Linked DNA regions of Homo sapiens: region 2 is linked to region 1. Evidence: fine-mapped expression QTL. A gene starts in region 1. The other region holds a variant in brackets. All regions are shown on one strand. Distances are between the middles of the regions.

Evidence for each region. PIP is the estimated chance that this variant, and not a neighbour inherited with it, causes the effect.
Region 2: its variant is fine-mapped to the expression of NMNAT3 in sun-exposed skin (GTEx, PIP above 0.99). The same link has a PIP of 0.9 or more in unexposed skin.

What each region holds. Positions count from the first base shown.
Region 1 is chr3:139,668,393-139,683,643 of GRCh38, reverse strand. It overlaps NMNAT3 (nicotinamide nucleotide adenylyltransferase 3), which reads left to right and starts at 5,672. Exons shown (of 7, transcript NM_001401600.1): 1 at 5,672-5,939. RefSeq lists a silencer at 5,569-5,618.
Region 2 is chr3:139,639,075-139,654,325 of GRCh38, reverse strand. All of the region lies in intron 1 of NMNAT3 (nicotinamide nucleotide adenylyltransferase 3), which reads left to right. Among named protein-coding and RNA genes, the nearest start is that of NMNAT3, 31 kb to the left of the region's middle. The variant A/G (reference allele first, on the strand shown) is at 6,043.

The DNA.
Region 1 (15,251 bases):
GCCTTCCTCCTAACAGCATTCTTTGGGTTTCCGTTTGGGAAATTGCCCCTCTCCACTATGAGAGTCTTAGTAGGAGAGTAAATTCAGATGCTTTCCTTTCAACTTCTGCAGTTGAAGGAGTTTGCCAACACCTTTCCCAGGACAAATAGGAGAGTGTATACTAATGTTGGCCAATCTGAGGGCCTCTCCCAAGACTTTGGCTAGTGTGCAAGTGAAACAAGGGCATAGAAAGTGTCTAGAGTTTAATCATCTATCTCTGCAGCAGCTTCCTGACCAGACCATTTCTACTAAGAGATTATTCCCAGGGTTTTCACTTTCTAGCTTTTCAGAGCTACTTTCTCCCTATCCGTTTCTAAGCCTGGATCTCCAAACTTTCTGTAAGTTCTGAAGGCCCAATCCTGCCAATAAACTCCCATCTACTGGGTCACAGAGACTGTTTCAATTGCTTCTAACAAAAAAGTCCTGACTAATACTCCAAACCCACCACTGGTCAGGCGTGATCTCGAGAAAATCCTCTAACCTCTCTGGGTACTCTCTACTGATCACAAAAGGATGGGTTATTCCTAAAGGCTTTTCCATTATGACTTTGACCACCTCCAGAAGGCCCTCTTTGTACCAAGTAGGCCCAAATGGACATCAAAGCCTGGATTAGGGTTTTAGCAATAGGGGTAAAATATAAAAGCTCCATTAGGAACGGCAGCTGACAGCACTGGGATGCTGCTACTGGAGCACTCCTTGGGCAATTAACCCAGGTAAGCACCAACCAAAACCCACTCCACTGCTTTTGGCACCAGAGTGCAATGTTTTCATTAGCAAACAGGCACTATTTAGTGTCTTCTTGCCATAATTATAAAGGTCCACTTATAATTCTGTGCTTTCAACTGTTCTTGATTATAAGACTTCTTAATTGTGCCACCATAAAACATGTTTTCAGGGGGAATCTGTTTTCCACTTTAAATTCTCTCCTGCAGCAATGTATTTGCCTTACAAAACTTCAGAATAAAGGGTAGAGGCTTCTGTAAATTCATAGTCTGTACCTTCAAGGAAAAATTACTTTGTTAGAATAGCAAAGTGGCCCCAGTTTGGCCTTATTTTCTAGCAAAAACTCATTGCTTAGCTGCATTTAATAATCCATGGAACATTTCTATTAACTTCAGTGTGTGAATTGTGTGACTGCAGAATGGGTAAAAAAAAAGTGAGAATCAGGAATACAAAATATGCAGAAAATGAAAATAAGTGAGATGTTAAATATTTGATCAAGGCCTTTATTTTCAGGTAACCAGTTGCCATCTTGGGGTCTCAAATGCCAACAGAAGCCACAGAATACTATTCTGAATTATTAAAGTGACTAGGAGAACCTTGTTTCTTTTTACTACTTTTAAATGAGTATGTAGCCTCTCAAGCTAACCTTTGCTTAAACATTTAACATAGACATTGGGTGAAATATAAAAAAGCAAAAGTTCTCAGTCTAATACTCAACCTGTAATTATAAATCAGATTACATAATACAGCTCAGCCATTTCATTTTATTTTTCTGTGTTCTAACAATTTTTTTCAGTTTGAGAGGAACCTAACCAAGATTAGTTGAAAGTCTGCATTCTAGAATATTTTTATCTGTATGTGTACTGAATATATTTTTCATTTGCTCAATTCAATGCATTCATTCATTCAACAGATATTTATTGAATATCAGGTGCTAGGCACTGTTGTGGGTGTGAGGACATATCAGGGAACAAAATGTATAAAGATTCAGCCACTCTTGGGCCCTACACTTCTGCGAGGGAGACAGATAATGAGCAAAATATCCTCCAATGATAGGTAGTAAGTACTACAAAAGGGGTTGTATGGGAGTATTTTTGTTTGTTAAGTGGAGCTGTCTACTAGAAAGCTAATGAATTGGGAAAGTTATCCTAAGAGTGGGCGGTGTGTTATTTAGGTCAATGAGGACAGCAGCACCATGGTTCTAGGTGCAAATAGGCCCAGTGTGTCCAAGGAACAGCAACAGAGTCAAGGAAACCAGAGATGAGAATGGCTGACAGCTGGAGCACTTGTCAGGGCAGATCCTTGAGGGCCTTGCACACCAGGGGGAGGACTTGAGATTTTACCCTAATTGTGGTGGAAGCCACTGGAAACTTTTGAGCAGAGGAGTGTTATAAACTGATTCACGTTTTAAAAGGATAATTTTAGCTCAATAGTAAGTATAGCCATGAAGCCAAATTGACAAAGTGAAGGTTTTCTAGTGAGGACCTGCTTTGATGCTTGTATAAGAAAGATCTGGCATGAGCACTATCTGTTCACTGTTTGTAAGAAAACACCTGGCCGGGCACGGTGGCTCATGCCTGTAATCCCAGCACTTTAGGAGGCCAAGGCGGGTGGATCACCTGAGGTCAGGACCAGCCTGGCCAACATGGTGAAACCTTGTCTCTTCTAAAAATACAAACATTAGCTGGGCGTGGTGGCGAGCGCTTGTAATCCCAGCTACTTGGGAAGCTGAGGCAGGAAAATCACTTGAACCTGGGAGGCGGAGGTTGCACGCCACTGCCCTCCAGCCTGGGCTACAAAAGTGAAATTTCATCTCAAAGAAAAGAAAAGAAAATGCCCATCTGCTGAAGTAGTTGCAGTGACTGAAAAGTTTGCCCTCTTTGGTCATTTGAAAAGTCCACCAGTCTCCCTTTTACATTTTACTTTTACCCACTCAAAGCTTGCTTTTCCTCAGCGACAGGTCAGAAGTCAAGGTTAGAATAGGTTCATCCAAATACAGAGGCTGCCCCAGTCTACGGCCTCATCACAATCCATCCACAAGCAAGCTTTCCAGAATGGCCTCAGGTCCATCCCAGGACTGTGACTCTCAGCCATCTGCACATTGCTTACTGCCCAAAGAGTTCCTCCTGAAACTTCATCAGCACACTGTTAAGTGATAGAAGGAAACTGCAGAATAGTGTTATACTGTAGCCAGATCTCATTTTAGTAATGACATTTTTATGCCTAGAAATAATGTTTTAAATGTTCAAAAATATGAGCTAAGTGGTCAGTTCCAGCTTTTTTCCCTGTAGAGACCTGTCTCCTGCAGCCTTGGGTGGGATGATTCCAAGGCATGCTCTTCACACAGTTTTCTAGGGTTTTCCCCTAGGATTAAGCCCTAAACATCTATTATAGTAGCTGGCTTAATCTTTTATTGAGCTCCCCTTTTCTTCCCTGTATTGCTTCTTCATTACTCTGCTGGTGTTCCATGTACCTCTCAAATAACTACTTGCATTAATTCTTACCTCAGGATCTGGTTCTGAGGCACTCAAGCTGAGACATCCTCTATGTAAAATCTTCCTCCTTCCTGAGGTGGCATTAGGTGGCCACCTTCCTTGAGCCATAATGGCAGATAGGATCCAGGAGAAATGAAACTTACCAATAAAGGAGAGATCTGAAAATATTATTCCCATTATACCCATAATCCAGTAGTCTTTTTGTGAGCTTAAGCAAATACAAGACTTGCATTTAGGTATTCCTCCTTCTAAAAAATTAGGAGGTAGTTGCCTCTCCAAAATGGATTTCTCAGCCATTGCGTCTTCACCGCTTAGGTTAGGTAAAGCTTGGCTATTATATGAGGTTCTTACCTTCCAGCACAAGGGGACGCTACTTTTTTAAAAAAATATTTTTATTTCCATAGGTTATTAGGGAACTGGTGGTATTTGGTTACATGAGTAAGTTCCTTAGAGGAGATTTGTAAGATTTTGGTATACCCATCACCCGAGCAGTATACACTGAACCCAATTTGTAGTCTTTTATCTCTCACTCCCTTCCCATTCTTCCCCTCTGAGTCCCCAAAGTCCACTGTGTCATTCTTATGTCTTTGCATCCTCATAGCATAGCTCCCACTTATGAGAATATACCATGTTTGGTTTTCCATTCCCGAGTTACTTCACTTAGAATAACACTCTCCAATCTCATCCAGTTGCTGTGAATGCCATTAATTCATTCCTTTTTTCTTGCCTAGGAAACCAGGCTTCCTCCTAGACCAAGCTTTAGTCTTCACTACCTCAGGCAGAGAAAGCTTCCCTTGCATGAGGAAGTCATTGCCCAGCCTCTTCTCTGCTCTCTGTGTGCAGCTTCTCCCTCCCTGGCCTAGGGCCCTGACCCAGAATGACTCTTCAGCCCACGATTTTAATCGAAGGCCTCTAATCAACCTGTGGTACTACATGCTACACAAGATTCTCAGAAATCCCTAAGCTTTCTCATGAGCCTCCCACCCTGCTGGGAAATAAGCTGACTTATCAATTAAAGAATATCCAAAGATGTTAAGCCACTTAATCCTCCCCAAAACTCAGTGCGGTAGGGGTTGTTACCTCCCATTATACGAAAGGAAAGTGAGGCTTGGGAAGTAAAGAGACTTGTCCAAGATCACCTTCTGGAGCCACATTTTACACCACAGGTAAGAGAAAAGGGATCCGAGAGGGCACGGACACTGTGTCTTCAGACTGAGTGGGGAAGTACCATTTACCTGGGTACTTATTGGGTGCAAGTTGCATGCCCCCGGTGCTAATACACAAGGGACAAATTTATGGGCCTCCTAAAACTGTGGACAGTGCACCCGTCCAGCCAACTTCATGGGTGCACCGTGAGGCTCTGGTGATGTGGACAGGCTTATAAAACACTCTCCATACTAAGATGAGGTTGTGTTCCTGTGTCTAGGAAACGCTGGAAATTAAGTGTACAGCAATCAAAAAACCTTGACATCATCCTTGATGTCTCTCTTTTTCGCACACTCCAATTCACTCCATTAGGAAACTGTATTGGCAGAATCTAGTGAATCTTGTCCTTCAAGGCCTCTCTCTGCAAGGCTCCCATGAGCCCTGGGGGCTTATGGAGAGTTCTGGGTGGGCAGAGGAAGCCAGACTGCGTTAGGGAAGCAAATTTGGGACCTAAATTTCCTAAGAAGGTTTTAGGGGATAGGGACCCCAATCTCTAAGACCCCAGGATTCTGTTAAGATTTATTTTCTCATTCCAAATAAATGTTCACTGGCAAGCCCTAATTCTGTCTTCTCTTTCTTAAGCAGCCCTCCCTTCCTTCTCCCCACACAACTGTGTATGCTTCAGGCCCCAGAAATCCTTCCCTGCTTTGAGGTCTGGCGTTTACCAGGGCAGGGCTTGAGAATAGAGGTGTAAATTTGTCAGAAGGAAACAGGGGCCGCGCAGTAAGAGAGTAGATCCTCATATAACATGGCAGAAAGTCAATGGATAAATCAAGAAATCGCTATGTAAGTTTCTTTTTTTATTTTTTTATTTTATTTATTTATTTTTTTTTTGCGACAAGCGGGTGACCACTAGAAGAAATTAACGGAGGAATTGTTAAAAAGAGCTGTGATGGGAGGGAGAAGTGGCCTGTTGCTTTCATTATAAGCAAATCTAGATAATTTTATTTTCTAATAAGTAAGTGGGCGTTACTTTCATGTATTTTTTTAAAAGAAAATTAAATAAAAATACAAAACAAACAGAATACAAAACAGGAGAATAAAAAAGCAAACACGCACGCAACACAAAAGAGCCTTGGCGGTTGGGAGCCAGCGGGCGGGGGCGGGGGCAGGGGAGAGGGCGGGGCTTAGGACCCTGGGCGGGGCCAGGGCCGGGTCTCCTTAGGGCCCGCCCCAGCGAAGGGGCGGGGCGCAGATCTGTTTCCCTCAGACTCCATCTGCCCGGGGCCGCTAAGGGAGCGCAAGGTCAAGTTCGCCTTGGCCCCGCCTCCAGCTCAGGTACTAGGGGATCTAGACCTGAGGCTGCCCGGGCCGGAGGCAGCCTTGAGTCCCGAGACCAAACGTCGTTTCCCTCTCGGACCTCGGGCGCCGGGCCGCGCGCTGACCGACAGCCCCTGCTAGGCCCAGCAGGTCCCCTAGTCCCCCGCAGTCCCCCGAGACTCGCCGAGCGCCGTTGCTGAGCCCTGCAAATAGCAGGTAAGCGCAGCGTGGGCCCCTCGTCAGCCCACTAGGACCTGGATCGCGGCTGAATGCCCGGGCCCACGTGACTCCTGGCCCCTAACTGAGTCCTGGGAGTCCCCGCTGGGGCGACAGGTGGCGGCGGAGTGCGGAGCCATCCGGGGTGGCGCGAACCGGGGGGACAGCTCCGCGCTGCCTCTGCGCGCCGGCGGTTCTCGCTGCAGCGTGTCAACCTAACCCCCAGCTCCCCTTTGGCTATGACCAGAGTCCCGGAGACGTGGGTTCGGATCCCACCTTTAGCACTCGTGCACTCAAAGGTTAAAAATATAAGCACAGTGTCTAACAAATACTTAACGTGTTCCACTCAGTGTCCGCTGCTGGGCTAAGTGCTGGGGTTACAGTAGCAGGCCAAAAAATGTGGTGCCCTCCCCCGTGCAGCTCACAGTCCAGTGGGGGGAGACCGACAGCAAATGGATATCTATGCAAACAAGTGTGAACGTTAAAACTGTGGTCAGAGCTATGAAGATTGAAATTCTAGGGTGCTGGAGAGATTTTATCAGGGCCCCCAGCTACAAAGGCTGCTGGAACTAAAACTTTAGAGAATTCCCGGGCGGGGAACAACAGAGCAAACTCATTTTGTTGGGAGAGAATGTGGCTTGAGGAAAGGAGGGTTGGTGGGGCTGGCCTGCAGAGAGCTGGGGGGAAAGCAAGTTCCTTAACCTTAACGTTCTCCTCTGTAAAATGGGATTGTTCTACCCATTGAGAATGGAAATGGTGAATGTAAATGACTTAGCACTGCGTGATGGGTGCTGGATGTTACTCTGCACTAAACATCCAAGGCTTGATGTTGTTCTGGACTAAACACAGTGTGCCTGCCTCTCAGCAAAGTCACTTCCCCTCTCCTTGAGTCCTGTTTCTTCCTCTATCAAATAAGTGGTTCTGAGTAGAATCTCTCAAACAGCCTGTTCTCTAAAATGATGACTGGTTTAGTTGTTCATTCTTGAAACATTTAACTGGCGCCCACTTTACCCTGGCTCTGAGGATTCAGAGAGAAATCAGACAGGGGCCCTGCCCTCCTGGAGCCCATGTCCGGTGGGCCAGGTGAAATAAAGTGACAGTTCCACCCTGGCACAACCCAGAGAAAGGGTTCTTACCCACTGGCCTTGCAGGGGAAAGCTTCTCTGTTTTTCTCAGAAAGCCACCCAGGAGCCCCTGAAGGTATGGTTCACACAGCTCCACTGAGCATCAGTTACTTCTTGAATTTCATTGGTGGTTCTCAGCTTTTGGTGTCACCTCTTAAAACTGGACAGAAGACTTCCCAGAAGCAGCAACTATGCTGGGACCTTGCTAAGGACGTGTCAGACCTTGAGACCCCATGGATTTGGGAGAGCATTTTAGGTTTCAGGAAACATCTGTCAGCTGCTCACTGTATTTTATTGGCTCAAATGATCCCAATTTCTTATTTGGCTCTGTTCACAACATTGTTGTAGACAAAGAAAGTGCTCCATGAAAACCAACTGAGAGGCCCAGAGAGTAGGGGAACCCAGATGAGGCAGGAGTCTGGCACCATTTGTGGGGAGTGGTAAAAAAGAACAGGTATGATGTTAACAGAGGGTGTTGGAGGGAAGAGGAGAGAGAGCAGCCATTGTGCAGCCTCTCTTTTCCCCTCTCAGACCACTGCAGGATGCCAGCCCATGAGAAGGGAAGCTCCAGGCTTGGTGGTCACAGACCTGGCACTTCTCAGCTCTGTGACTGACCCTGGGCAGCTCACTCACCTTGTGAGTCGTGAGGATTGCTCAGGCTTAACAGGTGCTTAGCATATCGTTGGCCCTGAAGAAATATTAACTCCCACCCTCTCCTTCTCCTGAATGAACTAAAATATACATAGTTGTAGTGTCTACCTCAGAAGGTTATTATGGGGATTTAATGAGGACCTAAAATACATAGAGCAGTACCTGACATGTGGGAGGATACTACTACTATAACTATTGATATCGTTCCTTAGTCTGGACAAAAATTGATGAAACAAGACAGGGCAGAGGCGGGAGAGGGATAGGAGTGGAGGCAGTATGAGGAATTGTGCAGGGTGATTAGTCAGGGGGTTAGATTATCTGTTGCAGTGGTTTTGCCATAAAGCAAGAGCCTGGCAGCAGAGAGGGGTGTTCTGCATGATAAAGGGCCTCCTGGGCAGCTGCACTGTCAGAAAGCCCCAGAAAGCCCCAGTGTCTTTGTAGACTCAGGCCAAAGAAAGCGTAGCAAAAGTTGGAGAAAACTAGGGTTGAAAAGGGTCTAAAATGGTCTTTTTGATGATGTGTCTCTAACTGATGGCTGAGTGGGGGTTCCCTGCAGGGGGCTGCCACTGCACCTTGCAGACCCTTGCCATCCCTTTGAGCATGGTAACTGCCTGAGACCGTTCTGGCTCTTTGACCTGGGAGCTATGGAGTCTAATTTTGCAAACTTCTCACCCAGCAGAGTACCAGGCCAAAAAGGCATGAATCAGTAATGAACAAATAAATGAACATAAACCCAAGAGGCAGATTTTTCATGGTATATGTGCACGTGTGTGTGTGTGTGTGTGTGTGTGTGTATGTTTAAAAGGAATACGAAGGTAAGGAAAGATGACTAATGTATTTAAGCATTTGCTGAGGGCCAAATATTTTCATGTATGTCGCAGCTTAGTGGTGAACACCATAGTCTTGTAGTCAGATAAAATTGCTCGTGTGACTTTCCCATGTATCACCAAAGTGCTCTAAACCTGTTTTTGCATCTGTAAAATGAGAATCACTGTAGCTAATTCATAGGGCTGTTAGGAGCATTAAGCAAGATAAGCATATGAAGCACTGACCTCAGTATACAACATGCAGTATGGTAAGTGCCCGGTCAATAATGGCTGCCTTATTATTATATTTATTAATCTTCCCAATGATCTCCACAGTGGTAAGGAAACTGAAGGCCCTAGGCACAGAAGGGTGGCATGGATTCTGAACTGAGTCCCATCTGGAAGCAAAGGCACTCTGCAGACACTAACCAGACAGCTTGTGTGAAATGAAATCAACTTTATGTGCATTTCATTCGTTACTTAAAGCACTTGACTAAGTGAAATTTTAAAAAGAAAAAAACCTGCAAAATTATAATTTGTGTGCCTTTCAAGTTCAGGTATTTTATCATCTCGATAAATCTTCCATACATCTATGTTAAACCACTTTGAGCTGTCAAAGCTCTTAAATAAAGTGGCTCGTCCTCACCAGTGTCTGTCTTTGCTCGTTTATCATGGTTCCCCAGTAAAGATGGACAGATCCCATTTTGCGGGGCAGGCCTCAGGATGGCAGCTCCTGCCCCATTGGTTTAGCTGTGCAGTTCTGCATGATGGTATTTAACAAACCACAGTGGACTCATGATTCCTTCATCATTGTGTCTCCCACATACACATAGACCCATGTGCCACTCTAGGAATTAGGAATAGAAAGGCAATCTATTGCTAGAGAGAATCTGAGAAATCAGCTCCAGGGAAATCTAAGATTCTCTGTAATAGGTTTTGGGTGGAAGTGCCTGGGATGAGGGTGACCATGCATCTGGAAGTCAGCACTGTCTGCTCTTTCCACCCAGAAGTGCTGTGTCTGGGCTGCCTTCCTGCCCAGTGAAATCCTGGTCTTCATCCCTGTGCCTCTCTGCTGTCCCTGCCTCTGGCCAGAGCTGCCCCTAAATCCAGAATCCCTGGGGCAGCGGCAGAGGCACACTCTGTTGCAGGGAAGCCTTCCTGAATCCCTCCTCAGCCTTCCCATAGTACCAGCGGGTGCCTGTCGGCATGCCCTTCTCTGGCCACGCTGAATTACCTCCTCTGCTTGGCTGTGAGCACTTCCACAGCTTTGGACCAAGTGTTCCCTGTACTTAGCACCATGCCTGGCACGTTGTTTCTCTCTCTCTCTCTCTATTCCTTCCTCCCTTTCTTTCTTCTACACATACTTCAGGCAGTGTCCTGGGGATTCAAACAGTGAGTCAAAATGACATAGTCCTGACCCTCATGGAGTCTGCACACATCATGAGACAGATTTAACAATAGAATTAAGCACATACACACATAGCAACACATTTTAAACTGGCTTAACTCTCCTGAAGGAGGAGGCTGGTGTCAGGGCCGCATGTGGAAGGGAGAAAGATAGAGAAATATAGTCAGTATCACTATAGACAGAGGGGCCAAAAGTGTTGGAGGGAGGCTTATGTTCCTTTTTTCATATACACCCTTGAAGACCGCTGGATGATATTTTTCTATAAATCCTGGTAAGCAGTGGTGTATGCTGCCAAGGTCATCCTATTGAGAATGTACACTTTTAAAAACAACTGTGCTTCAGCTTCCAAATGGGAGAATAATGCTGTGATCCAATTCACTTACCCCTTTATAGTTTCCAGAGCTCCTCCTCGGATGTTGTCTGGTTGGGTGCTCCAGTTCTCAGCGTCATACATCTCATCTTGGGTAGCAGCAGCAAACAGGGATCCAGCTCACCTGAGGGTAAATCTAGTGGCGTGGGCACTGGAGCCTTTTCCCTTCTGAGTGACAGAGTCCACCTGAGAGCCTATTTGTTTCCTCCTTCTCTGATACTCCTGGGCACACCAGGCTGAGTCTCCAGCATAGATTTTATCATGTTGTGGCTAGTGGTCTGCTGTCTGAGAGGAAAGAAGGGCACTGCTGACTGCTGTTGTCCGGAAAGCTGGGCCCACCAATCTGTGTGCAGCTGTGGCAGGGTGAGCTGGCAGTGATCCTACCCATGCAGAGCCATGCCATGCCAGCACAGTCCTTCGTGAGGAACCAGCAGTTCTCCAGAGGGGCACCATGCCTGCCTTCGAAACCCATTCATTTCCACTGAGAACAGGGAGAAAGTCACACTAAAGACCTGTTCAAAATAAGATGTGATCCAAACAGCCTCAGGAAACATTCTCTGTCCATACTTGAATATTATTAGAGAGTTACTTTGGCCAGAGCTGTTGACAAAATACATCTCCAATCCCTACCAGTCTCAGATGTAGACCTTATCACCAGAGATGAGCTGCCGTCTTCTCTGCAGCAAAGGAAGGATGCATCACTGCACAGAGATTGAAAAGGCCCCCATGCTACTCTTAGTCGGGTGAGTTTGCCTGCCTTGCACAGACTGGTGGGGAAGGGCTATATTCTCAAGGTACAGCTATAATAGGATTGTAATTGTGTGGCTCTTAGCCATGGAGAAAAGAAGTGGTTCTGGAAATCTCCCTTTCATAAAGGCTGACACGCTGACAGTATTTATGCCTCTTGAAAGTACATGTTAAGTGGTGGATATTTATGAAAAGGGTTTTGAGGAGTAAATGTGTCCATCAGTCAACCTGGAACTTTTTAGAGCTCCTAAGATGGTTTTAAATTAGAGCCAATCTTCTTCCTGCCTTCCCCCTTCCATCAGTACGCCCCCCTTTCTTTGCTTTCTCTTATAAAAATGAAGTGTCAAGGCAGGACAGAGCCCGGGGATGAGGTTGGAACTGCCTTACAGAAGCAGAGTTAGCATATTAAAGGCAGGTGTGTAGGGGTTAGAGCCTTGATTCTGGTCCTTCCCCCTTGTCACAGTGTTCTGGAAAGAGGAGAGTACGGAGCAAGGCTGACAAGCATGGCTCAGCCTAATTGCATCCTAACCACTGCCATCAGCAGCCCTGATATCAGCCAGGCTGCTCGCTGAAAGGTTTACAACCATAAAGGAAAAGAATGATGAAAACATGTGATGCAAACCAACCCGAATTTGGGCTCAATAAGTGGCAGGTGGAAGTGAATGAGTGTCAGTGTCAATGAGGGAATCACACCAGGTCAGGTCAAGAGAAACCTTTAGAAGGCTGGAAGTTTCTCTGTGAGCCAGTGATCATTAGAACAGAATGCCTGTTACATGAATTAGTGTGTAGGAGTCTAACTTGGAATTATTACTCACTTTCAAATCTTCATTTTAAAGATCAGTAATAGGTTTATTGCACAAACCTTATACTTAGTAACAAAGACTGCTTTGCTTTTAATTTCCCCATCTGGCCTTCTTCTATGTAACTTATATGGTGCCGTTGATCATTCTTGTCTTAATGTTTGTGTGTGTGTGTGTGTGAGAGAGAGAGAGAAAGGATACCACTGTCTGTTACTCATGTTGTGTTTTGTAAGTAATCAAAGGACCGTCGATGATAAAAGTATAGGAGCTGCCTGTTTCAGGTGTCACTGAAATGCTGCTACCTTTTGGCTTCTTCTGAAATTCTGCTTTAAGAAAATAATCTGAAAATTAGAAAGAGCCACTGTATAAAAATGCTCTCTGCACCATTATTTGCCATGGTGAAAACTTGGAAGTGATCTGAATATACAGTATAGGAGGAGAACAAATTACAGAACGACAGGCTGATGGAGTATTATGTAGTACTTAGAAATATGAAGATTAGCCACATGGGAAACCTTAACATGCTCTGGGAACAGAATGCGGTTACATTACAGACATATTTAGGAAAACAGTCTTCAAGGGAACCCTCTAAGGGGACAAGAGTTACATATGAAAAAGGGAATTATGGATAACCTTTTTCATATATCAAGCTTTCTATATTATTTTATTATTCCTATAACTATTTTAAAATCTTAAAATCAGCCAAATTAAACAATGATCTTTCTTCAGTTTGTAATTTTAGGCCACTACCTTTGTGGCCTCATCCTGAATTAAATCATCCAATCAAAAAGAATGTTAAAGCCAGGTTTGGCTCCCTGTTTCCATGTTTCCAGTCCAGAGATACACTCTGGGTTCCTGGCTGAATGGCCTGCAGATGTGTTCACCCTGTCCCTGTAGACTTGAATTCTCAGGGTTTTTAAGTTAAAGAAGGCCATTGCCTCTCCTGGTCCCCAGTACTGTGGGAGGAAGGAGGAATTTGGAATTGCAGCCTTCAGAGCCCTTATTGGTGACATTTCAGCAAACTCTCCCCACAACCCAACACACACAGTTACTAATTGCCTAGGGTAGCCCTGTATCATTCTGGCATCTTGTCTTGCAGGCATTGTATTCTAGTACCTCAGGAACTGGATATTATGTGTGTACTGCCAACTCTCACTGTGATGGCGTTATATCCGTGTATTCTTTGCTACCTAATGCTGGCCAAAGCCTAGTGCATTAAACTCATTCAATTGGCTAAACATTAGGAAATCATGTCACAAGACAAGGACTTGAGTCTGAGTAGTTTATTTGAAAGTGGACCCCAGGAAGCACTAGCAAAAGGTAGGGAAATTAGCCGGGGAAGTGTACCATCAAGCAGATGTCCAGCAGGGGCATCTGGGCTTTAATCCTGATGGGGATCTCCAGAGCCAGCGCAGAACCATCTCAGAGTTATCCCGTCATGGGGCTGGGGGCTGGGTATACACATACCATTTCTGTCAGTCATTGCTGAGACAAAGAGATAGAGATGCTGTCAGTGGAAGTCAAGCTGGCTTGCTCTAAGACGATGAGGCCTGGGGCTCAGGGCATGGCACTGACAGTGTCTGCTGTACTGTTCTTCCCTTTAACACCATGAACATTATCAGCGTACTAAACTGAAGATAACCAAGTCCACAATTCCCTGCTAAATCAGACCCAGTTACACTACATTGAAGACTGCATTAAGTATAACCAACCCCAAAAGTTTGAGAAAAAAATCATGGATGGAAAACTTTAAATAAGAAAAACATTACCATATTTCTTCCTAGTAAATTGGAATAGACTACCAAAATTTGATTTTAGTGGCAGAATGCTAGTTTTCTGCAACTGTACAGTTTAAGACCCAACACTTTAAAGGAAGGCTTGAGTGTGTAAGGTTTATCTTTATTATGGCAATGTTTTTTCCTCTCTTGTAGCTTGATGATTCCTGTTATTTTTCTGGTAGATTAAGATGATATTAAAAGAAAACTTCATTAGGAGAAAATATTTAACTTTATTTGTATTAATCCATAATTATATCTCCAGTGCCATGTTTTAATATTAATATTGGATTTACTTGCTGTACTCACTAATACAAGAGGATGGCAGAAAATTTCTGTAGTTATGGCTTTAGGTGCTATGATAAATATTTTGTAGTCATTGCCTTTATATAGAAACACTTCATCTCCAATTAAAGATTTAGTAGCTCTTCATCAAAGTATCTATTCACAAACGAGGCATACTCTATGGTTGTGCTGACATTTCAACTTAATTCACTCTATAGTTTTGTGGATCCCAAATCTTTTTTTTTTTTTTTTTTTTTTTTCTGAGACAGGGTCTCACTCTGTTGCCCAGGCTGGAATGCAGTGGCATGATCTTGGCACTCACTTCAACCTCCGCCTCCCAGGTTCAAGCAGTCCTCCCATCTCAGCCTCAGGAGTAGCTGGGACTACAGGCATGCACCACCACACCTGGCTAATTTTTTTTTGTACCTTGTAGAGATGGGGTTTCACCATATTGTTCAGGCTGGTTTTGAACTCCAAGGCTCAAGTGATCTGCCTGCCTTGGCCTCCCGAAGTGCTGAGATTACAGGCATGAGCCACTGCGCCCAGTGCCCCCGTCCATTTTATATGCTTTTCTCCGCCATGCATAGAAGAGGAATAGCAGCAGAAATTTGGGGCATAATGCAGATTCTAGAAACACTCTCTATGTCTTTATTAAGTCTATTGGAATATTTGTCACTACAAATAAAGGCCATACTCCAAGAAATGATTTAAAATTGTAAATCACGTAGCAAGTTCAATAGGGTTTAGTGTTAAAATTCATATGCTTTCAGTTCTGGGCATTTTAGATTTGTGTAGAAAGAATTCAAGATCTTAGTGTTTTAGATCAATAAAGTCATTTCCCTTTAAGTTATGGTCCAAGATGCATTCCATAAAGACTGAGATGACAAATACCTGGTGTTTATGTATTTTTCCATACCCTATGCAGATGGCAGACATCATTGACTGATACCCAAGCCTGATTTCTCCTCAGCAAAGTTCTCTACGCAGCCAGCTGCTGCAGTTAATCAGAATTAGTTCCCTAGATGAAGTCTATGGACTCTCCATGCTCTTACATACCTTTGTACTTGTCCCTGCCATTTCTGTGAATGGTCAACAAAGGAAGTTTTCATAGTCTCCCTTCCAAAAAACATTTTTTAAAGATGAATTCAAGAGGCAGCTGGTTTGCTCACCTAGTGCCTTTTGAGCCACCTCTCTGTTATGCAGATGGTAGGTATTCTATTTGTCAATGACTGACTGTCTCCCTTCCTTTTGTCCTTCTATCATGTGCATTTTGATTTTCTTTCTTCATTTCCTCTAATGTTGCTAAGAAGATAAAACAGGAAGCCCCAAATTATTTGCTATTTTCT
Region 2 (15,251 bases), 29 kb after region 1:
CTGCCAGTGGCTTAGTTTTTCATCACCATCCTTATTCTGAGTCAGTTCCAGGCTCATGGATCAGTAGGGACACACTGTTTACATTTAAATCAGACCCCTGGTTTGAAGTTGACTTTATTTTTATCTGCAGATTAATTGCCAAATGCTTAGCTTTTCAGCTAATCAGGTACCTCTCATGCTCCTATCCACAGGGAAGTAAAGGGGAGCTAAGTGCGAATCCTGCCTGAAGGATCCCATTCATAAGACATAGTGAGCATGATGGTTTTGGGAGCTGTCCCAGTGTAAGACTGTGTGTGCTCTGTACTCTACTAGCTCCTGGACACTGAGGGACAAGAGGGGGGAGCAGAAGCGCTGGTCAGAGGGCACTATTTGCCCTTGACCAGATCTCATAGCTTGTCTCCAACCTGCTGATCTACGGAATGATGAGGCTAAACTAGAAAATGTCTCTGGTCCCTTCTACCTTGCTCTGAAATGCTGCCACGCCCCAGGTTCGAGTTACAACGTGTTGCTGACTGTGACTCAAGCAGTGAGTGAATGGAAGTAGGGGAAGAAAGTCTAGGCAGCTACGGTTTGCTTGAGGAGTTTCTGGGGCTGGAATAGGGTGGGGCTGTGGGGAAGCTCATTTATCCATTCAGCCAGAATTTCGTAAACCTGGCTTATGCCCCAGCTGGGACAGAGCTAGGCACAGAGACCTTGAAGGCAACAAACTGAGCCCTCTCGGGCATCCTCCTGACCCCAACACGTGGCTACTACACTTAGCAGTCAGCTGTTTGTTTCCAAAAGTGTCAGTGCTGGCTGTATTTGCTAATATAGTCAAATAACTTTATTAAATATTATATAAACTAATGAGCTATGAGTATAAAAGGAAAGAGTAGGTTTTGCTGATAAATGATCTGTTTGATTGCTCAGAAAATAATGGCTTCAACTCACATAAGCATTTTATAACTCCTGATTTCCATTATTTTTAAATAGAACAGTTTTTTTTTAAATTATGGGGGTTTTAACAATATCACCTTTTGCATTATTCCATGGCACATTGAGAGGTGTAAGATATTTTGCATTTGAATTAAGAAACACACACACACCTTAGTCCCATGTTATTTACAGGATGACCTCTTAGGAGCCATTTAATCCAAACATAAGTAATTTTATAAAATGGAGTAGGCACAGAAAATGATAGAATAACACCAATACAGTGACATTTATGAAGCAATGACTCCATAAACTGCAACTTATGGCACCACCAACACCCCTGCCCCCGCTGCCAATCTATCCTTTCCTTTAACATTTTAACTCCATTATTTCAATAAAATGAGAGTAAAATACTTATCATGAAACCCATTTTGTACTTTGAATCTTTTTAATCCTCTCTTAGGTGAATGTGCCTCTCACTGGTGAGGCGCATACCTGCTTTTCTCTGGTCACTTTTGCTTCTGGACTTCTAGAAGTACAGCCAAAACTGTTTGCTCTCACAGAGGCAGAGCTGCATTTGGTTCTGTGGTGATTCCCAGCTTCTCTCGAGGAAGAGAAGATGCGTGGTTTATTGGATCTCAATACCCTCTCCCAGGGGAAGAGGCTGCAGGACATCTGTTTGCTTTTGCTTTCAAAATTAAAGTGGATGTAATTTGGTTTTGAAAATTTTGCAATTTCACTTAAAAACATTGCTGTTGGGAACCAGGGAGTCAATGTAGTAAAGTCCTCACAAGGGCCTCTCTTGGGCCCACTGAGAAGTGCTGTTGCCCCCCATAGGCTGCTCTTGCTCATACCCAGGTCCTGAGGGGCCATGCTACACAGCTCAGCAGAGACACCTGGAACACCTGGCAGGGTGGGGTCGAATCTCATCTCAGCTCACTCCTCCTTGCTGTGCAATCTTGGGCAAACAAGTTCAGTTCTCTAAGTCCCAGTTTCCTCATCTGCAAAGGTGGAGTAATAGCATCTAATTGAAATATGTGTGCCCCTTAAATGGTTGGAAATATTAGTCAGTGCAAATGCTTATTCTTTATCTTTCCTTGGATTGTTCACCCGGAGCCATTTAACCTCACTTCTGAGTCCCCTTACACACAGTGATGTTGATCATCTGGGTACCCACAAAATGTAAGGGGACATTACAGCCCCGGGCTGCTGCAGGGCAGTGAAGCTGTGAATCTTCTGGAATGCCATGCCAGGCCTGGGCACTGGCTGGCTGAGGGTAGGACTCAGGGCACGATGGTCTTCCCCAGGCATGGCTTCCTCCCAGCATCACCTCCAGCCTAGGCTTTGGGGGCCTCTAGACAAGGGCCTAGAATTTTCTCTGGCAGGCCTGAAGCTGGGTGGAACAGTGAGGGCTGGACACAGATCAAGGAGTGGGCTCCAGATATGCTGCTCAGTGAGGAAGGGAGGACTTAGGTCCCCAGGCTGTCAGTTTCCCTCCTCCAGGGCAGGGAGCATGGAGCATTCAGAGGAACACTGACTTTGGAATAGCAGAGAAGGCAGGAAATGGTTGGAGCAGGAGCACTGAGTTATGGCTGGGAGAAGCTTTAATAGGCCATTAAGGGGGTGGGATAGGGTAGGGGAAGTAATTAAGGAGGCCATTTTGCACCCTTGCCCGGAGCCTGGGACCCTGAGACCAGGAGTCTAGGGATTCGCTCTGCCCTCAGACCTGCCAGCTCTGCACACAGCCTGAGCTGTACCACAGATGTGGGCCACCTTAATTCCAGCAGCTACCTTTGAGATACACCCTTTGGTTTTCAGGATTCTGGAATCTCATCATGTCTGATGGAGAGGCAGTTCAAAGTCATTGGCAGTGGGTCAGCAGTATTGTCTGCAGATAAAGCATAGCTTCTCTTCTCTTAGTATCACAGATGTTAGGCAGCCTTCCCCTCTCAGAATAACCTCTAGCTTTTGAATCATTTGGCATGAATATATATGGAATCATTGGTGGAGTTTTTAGTCTGTTATTTTTCCATTCAGATTAGTTAGAAATGTACCTTCTTGAGCTAAGGCCTAATACAGAAACTACTTTGCAAAAAAAAATGGAGACTTGGGAAACTTAAAATGAAAATCATATAATGGAAGCCATTATTTAGTCTCTAATCCATGAGTTTTTATGCTGTGCGGGTATTTATATATTATACTTTCTACCAAAGTTCTTCACACAAACAGGCCTGAGTGGGTCTCTTACTTCTTACCAATTCTTACAAAAATTATGGTTAACATGTCATGCCAACTCCATGCTCTTCTTATTTTCCAACACATTTTCCTTTTACAATAGAAATGTTCATATTGGGTTAAATTAGAAAGTTATTTTAAATAATCACTTCTGAGGTATCAAAGTAAGGAAGATTTTATATTTTTTATTTTATAAATGATGTGGTGGTTTTCTTTGATTACTTCTTGGATCCTACTGTTCAGAGAAAATCAGATATTCCTTTTTGTAAGAGAAGTTATGAATCTTCCCTGAAGAGTTTTAGAAAGATAAATACTTCTCCCTTGGCATGATGTCAGCAACTTCTGCCTCGAGGAAGGGAAATGGAGTAGAGAATTGCTCCAGGTCCTTTTCAGCTTTAGATTTCTCTGAATTTATCGCTTTCACAGAAGGGATCTCCTGCATCTTCCACATTTGTCCCAGAGTGTCAATCTCATTAGGCCGAGGGATGAGGGTTATATGTCAGGATGCATTCCTCAGGTAAAACCTAAAAGTCTCCACAGCCAAAGAGCTTGGTTTATAAAGCACTGTCACAGTGTGATAGAAATCTCAGCCCTGAGTCCAGAGCTCTGACTCTAGCTCTGTTATTAACTTACTGTATAACCTTGGATAAGCAACATCACCTCTCCAGTACTCAACTACAAGTGAGTTTCTTCAATTATAACACAGGGGGTTTAGACCACATGTTAACATTCTGCAAATGGGAGCACAAAACCAACAAAGTTAAATATTTTGGTTAAGCATAAGCCTTCCAGATAGAGCATTCCCTCTGCCTAAGGAAAAATCCAACTCCCAATCTATGTATTTTTGTAACAGTATCTTTAAAATGCAGAAGATGAAAATCTTTCCTGAAATTTGTAATAAGGAGTCATAAAATGTCAACACTTTTTATGATTTGTGGCCAATCTTGGAGAAATATGTCTTGAAAAAATAAACATTTCATATTATATGGAGAAGAGAGAGGGATTGGTTCCTTTCATTCAGCAAAAAGCAGTAATTGCAGTAAGAGCCATCGCTTAAGAAGTATTTGTAGAGACCTGTCACCTGTAAAGCACTGCCCCTATGCAGTCTGTGTTTGAGATGGAAGTTACCCCATGCCCTTGCTTTTGTTTATCCAAAAGGCAAGTGGGCTCCTGGTTTCTTGTTGTCCAGAAATCACATCTTTGCTTTGGGGTCTTGAGACACACTCCCATTCATCTCTTCATGGCCCCTAAATTGAATGTTGTGAAGTCAATGCATGTTTCTCCTAGCTGTATTAATGCCTTTGGGGTGTGCAGTTTGTCAGCCTGACTGCATTAATCCAAAACAGTGTTTCAAATTGGCAAGTAAGGTGGGACCCTTTTGATCAAAGAGTTCTCCTTTTGTATGTGATGAAGCGTGGTTTGGGTGTGTTTTGGGGTGCACTCAGAGGAGTGAGGCTAGGGGTGTCCTTTTCAAAGGTATAGTGCCCCCCTCCCTGGTGTGCAACTCACAAACACTAGGAGGGCTGCGTACAATAGCTAACCGTGCAGGAACTGACTGCTCACTGGGGAGAAGCTGCCCTTCCAGGAGGTAAAACAACCTTTGGAAGCATCATCATATAGAATTTTTCAGAAGGAAAGTGTTCAAAAGACAGATTCCCTTGGCTTTTGTGTGAAACTGAGTCAATGAATGGTGACTTTGCCCCACTCTTGTAGAAGAGACAAAAGACGCACTTGCCTCAGACTTTGGCTACTTACTGTGTGTCTTTTTTTTCTTTTTTTAAATAAAAACATGGAAGACCACCAGGGAGTTTGGTGTAAAAGCCAGTTTTTTTGTTTGTTTGTTTGTTTGTTTGTTTTCTTTGCTTGCCATCCTGCAACATTAGCTGGGTTACAGGAAACTTCCAGAAACCACAGGCAATCTTTAAAGACCATCTCCTGCATAGCCCTTCACTGAGCACACAATTACTGAGGGTCGCCACTGTTTGCCAGACATCATTCAAAACAAGGTTCTCATAGTGTATCTTTATTGCATTTTCATCTTTTTTGATTCCTAAAATTACAAAAAAGAATACATGCTTAGGGAAAAAGTGCATTAGTATAAAGTAATACTAATAAAGCCCAAGTCTGTCCACTCTTCTTACCACCCCCTCAACAACCCTACTCCTTCCTTTGAAAGTAATGACTTCTTATTTGATGTGTACCCATCCAACAAATTCATAAACATATCTAGGTGTACATATATATAGTTTCTGTATATTATAACACAGATTGCTTTGTTTAAACCATGTGAGAAAATACTATAATATTGTCTGCAACTTACATTTTTTTACCAGTATTTACTCAATAATCTCCCACATCGGTATATGTAGAAGTACGTCACTCTTTTTAATAGCTGCATAGTATTACATGGAATGTAACCATTCCCTTGTTGGTAGACAGTGGGGTCTCTAATTTTTCACTATTGCAGATAAACCTTCAGAGGACAGTCTGATGACATATGTTTGCAGGTATCTGGCCATGTTTATTAATAATTAAACTATTTGTTTGAAGATATGTTTCTCCAACACATGTACATGCCTACACATCCCTATCGAAACTATGAGGTTAATTTATAGAAAGTTTCTTAAATCCTTGGTTCCCCTCTAATTACCTGCCCCTTCATACTTAATCTGTTCACATGTTTGCTTTAAGAACTAAGCATTTTTTTCTCATGCCTTCAGCCTCCTGCTTCAGGAGGGGACGCTGCCCAGAACTGGGAGTTGGCTGCCTGCTTTTCTTAACCTACATATATCAGTCCATTTTCACACTGCTATAAAGAATACCTGAGACTGGGTAATTTATAAAGAAAAGGGGTTTAATTGACTCACAGCTCCACATGGCTGAGGAGGCCTCAGG[A/G]AACTTACAATCATGGCAGAAGGCAAAGGGGAAGCAAGGCACGTCTTACATGGCAGCAGGTGAGAGAGAACACAGAGGAAACAGCCACTTTTAAATGATCAGATCTTGTGAGAACTCTCCCACTATCACAAGGACAACGTAGGGAAAACCCCCCCAGGATCCACTCACCTCCCACCAGATCCCTCCCTCAACATGTGGTGATTACAATTCAAGATAAGATGTGGGTGGGGACCACAGCCAAACCATATCACTACACTTGCATTCAACCCTCTCCTATTCCACTTGCTGCAGGCAGGAAGTTGAATTCAGCCAAATATCATCAAAGAACCATAGAATCTGGGGGATAGCTTTTGTACAAACTGAAACTCTTCCTTCCAACGTGTCTGTGAGTGTATTAGTTTTCTGTGGCTGCTGTAACAAATTACCATAAACTTGGTAGTTTAAAACAAAGGAAATTTATTTTCTCACAATTTTGGAGGCCAAAAGTTCGAAATCAGTATCCCTGAGCCAAAACCAAGGCATCAGCAGGGCTGCATTCAGTTCAGAGGCTCAAGGGAGAAATTTGTTCCTTGCTGAGTCCAGGTTCTGGTGGCTGCCAGCATTCCTTGTCTTGTCACTGCACCCCTCCAAACTTCAAGGCCAGCATCTTCAAATTTCCCTCTTCCATCTTCAAATGGCCTCTCTGTGTGTCAAAACTCCCCTTACCTCCCTTTTATAAGGATACATGTGATTGCATTTAGCACTCCCTCTTCTCAAGATTCTTAATCACATCTGCAATGACCCTTTTTCCAAGTAAAGTAACATTTACAGGTTCTAGGGATTAGGACCTGACATCTTTGGGGGACATTATTCAACCTAGTTTGATGGAGTTGTTGACCTCCTTTCCAATATATTTTACTGCTGGGGCACATTTGATATTTCCTTTGAACCATTTGGGAGAATGTATTTTTATTCATAAGGGAGGCAGAAATAGATGTTATTTTGCTCTGTACATTGAAAACTTAGCTAGAAAGGTGAAGTGCCAGAGTCAAGGTCAGACAGAAAATCTCTGGCTTACAAGCTTCTTAAATTGGAGACTGTGTGGCATGAATTGCATGCACAACTGTAATGAGTGAAATTACAAACGTGCCCATCTTCATTTTTCAATTTGGAAATATTTAGCTGTATGAAAGTTTATATGCCCTAGCTAGAAGGAAATTGAGAAGCTATCTATTATACCTTCTTTCCTGCAGATCAAACCAAACCCATGCCATACATTTTTTAAATCTTCCCAGATGTGCATACAGGTGTTCCACTCCTGTTCAAAATAAAGAATTGTGCTAGGCAATATTAAGGGCATAAGGCCAGGAGAAGTGCACACTGCTTAGGCATTTAGCAGCATTCAAATACAAGGATAAGGTTCGTGAGCGTACATTTAACTGACATTATGTCTCCTGCTTCAAACTCTTCAGTCCTCCCTGCAAAAAGCCTATTACGGTTTTGGACTTGGCCCTCCCCTTGCCATGTGAATGCTAATGTCTAATACCTCCATTTCCCAATTTCATAGCAGGCCTGCATGCTCATAAATTAAACTGCATCGCTCAGCATTATCATGTGCATTCTAGGATTTAGTCCAAAATGGCCCAAACTGCTGCCTATTTCAGCAGAACTCCCTTTGGCCATTGCCTGTTAATATATTATAGAGACATTAGGACAGTGATTTGAGAGTGCAGACCAGGCAGGTAGAGAACATACTTCCCTGCAGAGAGGTCTGTGGGCAAATGGGAGTGGCTCAGGGGAATGATTGTGGGGAGATGTTGGTTGCCTCATTTCAGACAGAGGATGGGGCCTACGTGGACTGCCCCACCTGAAACAGGGGGAATGCATCTGCCACAGACTGTCTTATAAAAAACTATTGAATGTGAATGGCTAAAGTTTAAAAGATAACAAATCAATTGAAAGAAGTAAAATAAATCCCAGACCATGGCTAAGTTTTGTCACTTTCTAAGCCAGTGATGGTGGTTTAAAAACATACCAAAATGTCCACCACAGAACCAGATTGTAAAGGAAACATAGTGGTGCTTGGCTTCTCAACATAACACTAAACACTGATACTTTTAAATCACAACCAAATCTGCACATGGTTTTTTAAAACTCAAGTAGTATAGAAGAGCATTCAATGAAAAGTTGCAGCTCTGTCCCTACTGCCCCCACCCCACCTACATCCCAAAGGCAAGTTGCTTTAGCCTTTTGAGTCTTTATTTTGGAAGTTAAAAGCAACTTTAAATTGTATGCCACTGAGTCCCATTATGAAAAAATAAAGATTTAACTCATTTATATTCTCTGCACCCTACCCTTCCTCTTTCCTCTCACTTTTGATGATTCTATTACAATGTTTATTCTTTAATTGGATACATTTTTACTTGAATAATACATTTTTATCGCTTGAGTCACAAATGGCCAGTTTGCCTATCCAATATCTGTTTCTCCCTTCTTCCTTATTAAAACAAACCCAATTTTGTTGAGAGCAACAATGTGCCATCAAAAAAAACTATACTCCTCAGTTTTCCTTGTGATAGTTTGCCTTGTTACAGTGTTCTGGCCAGTGAGATGTAAGCAGAAATTGTTGGGTAGGAAAACTCCTTATAAAGGGGACTGACTCAGCAGGTAGGTTCCCTTTACCCTTCTCCTCTCTTTCTTCTTCTTACCTGGAGCACAGGTATGATGGCTGGAGCTGCAACAGCGGTCATGCGACCATGAGATAATCTTGAGGGTAGCTGGAAGTCATGTTCTAAGAATAACAGAGAAAAAAATCTAGAGGGATCCTGGCAAATTGGTGACATCAGAGCTGCTGCCCTAACCCTAAACTGCCTATCTTCCTCATCTTCATTTTATGAGAGACAAGTTTAGGCCCTGTTTTGTCTAAGGCATTATTTTCCCCCACATTTGTTATTCACAACAAATCTGTGCCTCTCATTCATCAACTTTAATCAGTATCTAGACTCTCCACGAGGTGAGAGGAAACTATTGGTGCTTTTGCTGTCCTTCCCATCATTCTCCAACTACTGCTTCTGGTAGCTGTATTTTTCTTTTTTTCTTTTTTGAGATGGAGTCTCACTCTGTCACCCAGGCTGGAGTGCAGTGGCATGATCTCAGCTCACTGCAAACTCTGCCTCCCAGGTTCAAGCGATTCTCCTGCCTCAGCCTCCTGAGTAGCTGGGATTACAGGCGTGTGCCACCACACCCAGCTAATTTTAGTATTTTTAGTAGAGATGAGGTCTCACCATTTTGTTCAGGCTAGTCTCGAACTCCTGACCTCATGATCCATCCACCTCGGCCTCCCAAAGTACTGGGATTACAGGTGTGAGCCACCACTCCCGGCCGCGAGCTGTATTCTTACATTGCCAATGTTGATAACATTACCTTTCTATTCTGTGATTACAAGCCTTCTGTGTCTTTTCACTAGATTGACTCTAAAAGTTGAACACCATTAAATAGGATTTACATTATTATGACCACGTATGTGTTCACTCCTGGGTCAAGTGTCCCTGGATCACTCAAAGAGAAATTCCTAATATGGGAGTCAAATTAACTTTTTTCTCATATTCCATCAAGGAGTTAAAATTATGTCCCATTTTAATTTACATTATTTTTGGACCATGTTATTTATGGTCCTTTTTTCTTAGAGCTCCACATTTTCACACTCTGCCCTCAGCTCTTACTCCTCAGCCTATACAACTATCATTCTAGGTTCACCTTTCTCCAGGGTTAAATTACCTCTACTTAGGTTGTTTTTCTTCCTTGTTTTGCTGGAACACATCCTCAAAGAACTTCTTAGAGTGACTGAGTGGTAAACTTTGGGTCCTTTCATATTTTAAAGTGTATTTATTCTATTCCTGTACTTAAATGATGGTCTAGATTTAAAGTTGTTTTCTCTCAGTATGCTGGTATTGTTCATTGTATTTTTGCATGCAGTGTTGCAAATAAGAGGTCAGATGCATGCCAGTCTTATTTGCATTCTTTTGTGAATTTTTTCCTATTCCCTAGAAATCTCAGAGGTCTTTTCCTTATTGTTAGTGTTCTTTTATTTCAGGCCAAATGTGTTATCAATTAGGTTGATGTTGGTTGCAGCTGTCACACCAACTAAAATTGACTTAATGATAAAAAGGGTATTTGTTGGCTTACATAATTGAAATGCCCTAGATGGGATGAGATGGGATTGATGTTAGGAATATAGTTCTATCAGATCTCTGGTACTATTTATGTGTGATTCTCTTGGTATAGGCAACTGGGTAAATCTCAAGACAATCCTGATAGAACAGAAAACAAGGAATCAAGGCAGAGGTTGACAAGCAATGCAATGGCATTGAAGCCTGGCATCAGAGAAGGCTTAACAAGGAGACCTTTAATTTTAAATGTTTAATTGTGATAAAATACACATAATATAAAATTTACCATCTTCACCATTTTTAAGTGTGTAATAAATGCATTGATGTTGTTGTGCAAGCAATCTTCAGAACTTACCTCGCAAAACTAAAAGTCTATACCTATTAAACAATAAGTGTTCCTTCCCCCTCTCCTCCCACCCCCGGCACCGCCATTCTACTTTATCTTATTAATTTAACTGTTGTAGGTACCTCATGTAAGTGGAATTATTCAATAGTTGTTCTTTTGTGACTGGCTTATTTTTACTTAGCATGATGTCCTTAAGATTCATCTATATGGTAGCATATGTCAGAATTGCCTTCCTTGTAAGGCTAAATAATATTTTATTATATACATGCAACGTATATTTTGTTTTTCCATTCATTTTGTTGATCCATTCTTCCGTTAATGGACACTTGGTTTCCTTCCACCTTCTGGCTACTGTGAATAATGCTGCTGTGAATATGGGTGTACAAATATCTGTTTGTATCACTGTTTTTAATTCTTTTGAGTATATACTTAGAAGTGGAATTCCTGGATCATATGGCAATTCTATTTTAATCTTTTAAGGAACCTCCATACTGTTTTCTATAGCAGCTGCAGCATTTTACATTCCCACCAACAATGCACGGGGGTTCCCATTTCTCCACATTCTTGCAACACTTGGTATTTTCTATTTTTCAGTTAACAGTCATTCTAACAGGACGTGGTTTCTCATTGTGGTTTTGAATTTATTTCCCTAGTTATTAGGGATGTTGAGAATCTTTTCATGTGCTTCTTGGCCATTCATATGTTTTCTTTAAAGAAATGTCTACTCAAGTCCTTTGCCCACTTTTTAATTGGGTTGTTTGTTTTTGTTGTTGAGTAAAGAAGACCTTTTATGGACAGCCTTATATAGGCTGAGTGTTGGGGGGCAAAATTTAATAGACAGAAATGGATGGAAAGGACATTCTAGGCAGAGGGCCCAGCAGGATCAAAGGCATGGAGGTGTCAGAGTGCAGGGTACATTCAGGTTTTTTAAGTCACCAGGCTGTGTCAGACCATAAATTACAGGAGGGAAGCAGCCAGCACTAATGCAGGAAAAGCAGGGCTTCCTCACCCTCTGAAGAGGGGGAGTCAGGACACCACAATGAAGGAAGCCCCACTGTGGAGCCATCAAGAATGTGGAGACCATTCTACCAGATGCAGGGCTGCCCTCATCAATGTCCCCATGGTGCCCATGGGACACTGGATGCAGTCCAGAGGGGTCTGTTAAGAGGTTCTGGAGGCAGCTTACCCTGAGGTTAAGTTCTCAGGTCACAGTGCCAACCAAAAATAATGTTCATTCAAAAGTGTTTCTGAAAAGTTCCCAGGGCAGCGCCACAGTGGGGCTCAACATATCATCCTTTCCTAGGCCCCATACACCAAGGCCTCCTCAGGCACAGGTGCAGTCTCTCTTCAACTGCAACCCACATGAAGTTGCTTCCTTGATTTTAGAGACCACATTATGCAGAAGATACTTATCTTTGCACACTAGGATCACATTTGGCCCATGAAAGTGTACACACCATTAGAGAAAGGCAAGAACTGAGGCCTCTTGAGGTATATCTCTTTGGATGCTTTGGGCCACACGCCACTGAACACCTGATCAGCAGGCGCTTTAGCAATAAAGATATTTTAGCAGTTTATATAATAATAAGTCTGGAGAAAAGTAATACTGCACAAGGTTAATATAGTTCTCTAGGCCTTCCCTTTGTAGTCCTAGGAGGGCTGTAGCAGCCCCAAGCATCATATCCCTACACCACAGTGTCCAGGGGAGGGAGGGAAAGAAGAGACAGAAAAGGGGCTTTCTCATCAGTGCTCTTTCATCATCTGGGAGAATATTTCCTGATCTCCAGGTACTTTCTTTTGCATCTCATTGGCCAGAACTAGATCACATGCCCATGCCTAACCAATCACTAGCAAAGAGCTTGAGACTTCCATGGTAGGTGTGGTGCTATGGTTCTCATGCCTCTTATCCCCTGAAGCAAAATAAAATTGGTGTTTGTTAGCCAGAAGAAAAGGGAATTGCTGTGCTGCAAGAAGGACCAGCAGATTCTCCTGGGCTATATCACACTTGCTCTGGAACATCTGCTCATGGAAGACAGCGTAAATCATTTCATGTCAGCCTACATTTTATTTTATATGTAAATTATTATTTTATTTATTGAGTCCAGCACATACAGGTGAATTCTCATGAGTTGGATGTCTGTGGGCTGAAGCTTCACTGCCTTAATTTTGGGGTTGTTACCTTCATATGTCCTCCTTGGGCTTTATCCCAACCTCTGAGAATGGAGTGTTCTTTAGTTCCTCTGGCCTAACTATATTCTAGCTCTGCCTGTTGACCTTGAGGCCCAGGGATATGACTGGTCCCCTGGGGCCAGGCCCTTGCTTTCCTATCCTCTGGACAGCCTCTCTGTTCCAACTATAGAAAATGCTGTGCTTGTGGCATGCACACTCGTAGATCAACATGTATCACAATGGCCTAGAAAAAGAGCCATCAGCTAAGACGTAGCATAGCAGATCAATACGTTAGTTCTTTGGAAATCACAGAAGCAAATTAAGCTTTTGCTGATTTTTAAATTCACACACAGTAAGGAAAATCAACAAGTCCTCATTTTGTGGGAGGGAGCCTGGTATGGGGTTAGCTGGAGGTTTGTGTATAACTTGCTGGCAAATGTGTCAAGCTTCTTGACACTTGTTAACCTATGCATAGGCTTTGGTGGGAACATGGACAGGACATGTTCTGCCAGTTGTAGTTGTGGATTCTGAAGCAATAAGTGCAGGAAGAAACAAGACAGTTTGTCAGCTTAAGAATCATAGAGACTACAGTTGTTACTTATGAACTGCCTACCGTTCTGGCCTAATTTCTAGCCAACACAATAGCGATTATGCATACCATTAAATATATGTTGGATGAACTCAGTTAAAATTTTTAATTAATCACAGCCTCAAATCTGACTCAGGCCTGCTCTGACTTCATAGATCCCTGCCTAGATTTGCAGTTATCTGCTTATCACCATGGCAGTCTGCTCATAGCTCAGTAAAGAAGAGAAGCTGGGCTGCTTGGCTTATAATTTCTAGGAGGAAGTTATATTACACGAAATTGGAGAGAATGGCTCTGGACTTGGTTATGTTGTACCCAGTGAAAGTATCAGGTGAACAGCTCTTCTTGGGCATCATGTCTCTTGCCTGCACCTCCCAACTGTGATTCATAGAGCATCCACTGGCCTGTTCAGCCTTCATGGAGAGCCTGGCCAAGTTTCCACCCTTCCCAGATATTTCAGGATCCTATTGTCATCCTATTACCTTGAGGAAGTTGGTAGTAATGGCAGCTTGTTTTCTTTTTGAGTGAATGAATGAACAAACAAGCTAAAACAAAGTGGCCTTTTTTATTAGGATTTTTAGATTACATTTTAGGGCTGGTCCTAAGAGGATGTGAGAACTTAAGGACAAGGCTGAGTAGCATAGGGGAGACAACTGTCACCCTATATTCCTCAGCAATTTTTCTTTCTCCTTTACCAGAATCTTCATTTCTTAAAACCAGAAAGCAGCCTGGCTGATCTCCTGAGTTTTCCCCCAATCAGGCTGCTTTTGCCCACTCAGGCACAGGGCAGACACTGGGACACTAGCCCCTTCTGTGTGACCTCCTTCTGTTGACTGGAATCCACCACCCATACTGATGGTCATGGTACCATTTCTACTAGCATGTTCCTAGGACCCTTATGCATGCACAGTTTCAGAAAACCTGTCCTGCTGGTGCATGGGACTACAGAGTCCCACCATGCACTGTCCCACCTCACTGGGAAGGGGTTCTTCTGATTCTGTTTCCATGTGAAGACAGCTGGACTGTGGCCATGTAGACAGTCACTTTTATCTGAGTTTCTTTCTGATGGAAATAAATTGTATTATATATGGAAGGAGTGTGGTCAGGGCCTCATGACCTCTAGTATCTCCTCAGCATCTTTCTCTTCTCAATTGTCTGTCCCTCTGTGGTATTTCCTGGTTCACTAGGGGAACTCCAGAATTGACTCTGCTGTCTGTAAAGAACCATAAAGGGTCTGAAATTTTACCCTACTTGCAAGCTAACAAGTTAACCTGCCACAGTTTCATGGATGCTGGCAGAAGACATGAGACTTCTCCCTCGGAGACAAAAGACTTTATTACTCATGGCAACAGCAGTAGCCAGATGTCAGCATTTTCTTGTGCCATTTTCTGAGCTACAATTCCCACAGGAGGATGTGAAGATGGCCACATGATACCCATACTTGCAGTGGATTGTGTTATGGGAGAAGATCCCTGGGCTTCAGGAACCCAGATATTTTATCAGGGACAATAAACATGCCTGTCTTTTGCTCCAAAGAAGGACATCATCTTCATTATACTGGACAGTAACTCTGCCTGCCTTTGTCCCAGCAGGAGACAATATCAGTCTTCCAAGGCTGCTGTTAGCTATTCAAATATCTGTGAAAGAAAGTCCAGAACAATCAGCAGCCAATGCCTTACTTGAAAGACATGCAGAAACATAAGCAACCCATGGAGAACTGCCTCCCAACGTTGTCTTTGTTTTGACCTCATCCATACATTCAATTTGATTATTCCACACACGTTTTACACCTACTCTGAGCAAGACCCTATGCTTGGAGTGTAGGATACAAAAATAAAACACATTCTTTGCCCTCAAGAAGCTCACTCTCCAGTCAGATGGATAGGTGATGAATAGAGAGTAAGGTAGAATGGGATGAGATGTAAGAGAGAAAGTTCTAAGGGGATGTGGAAGGCAGAGG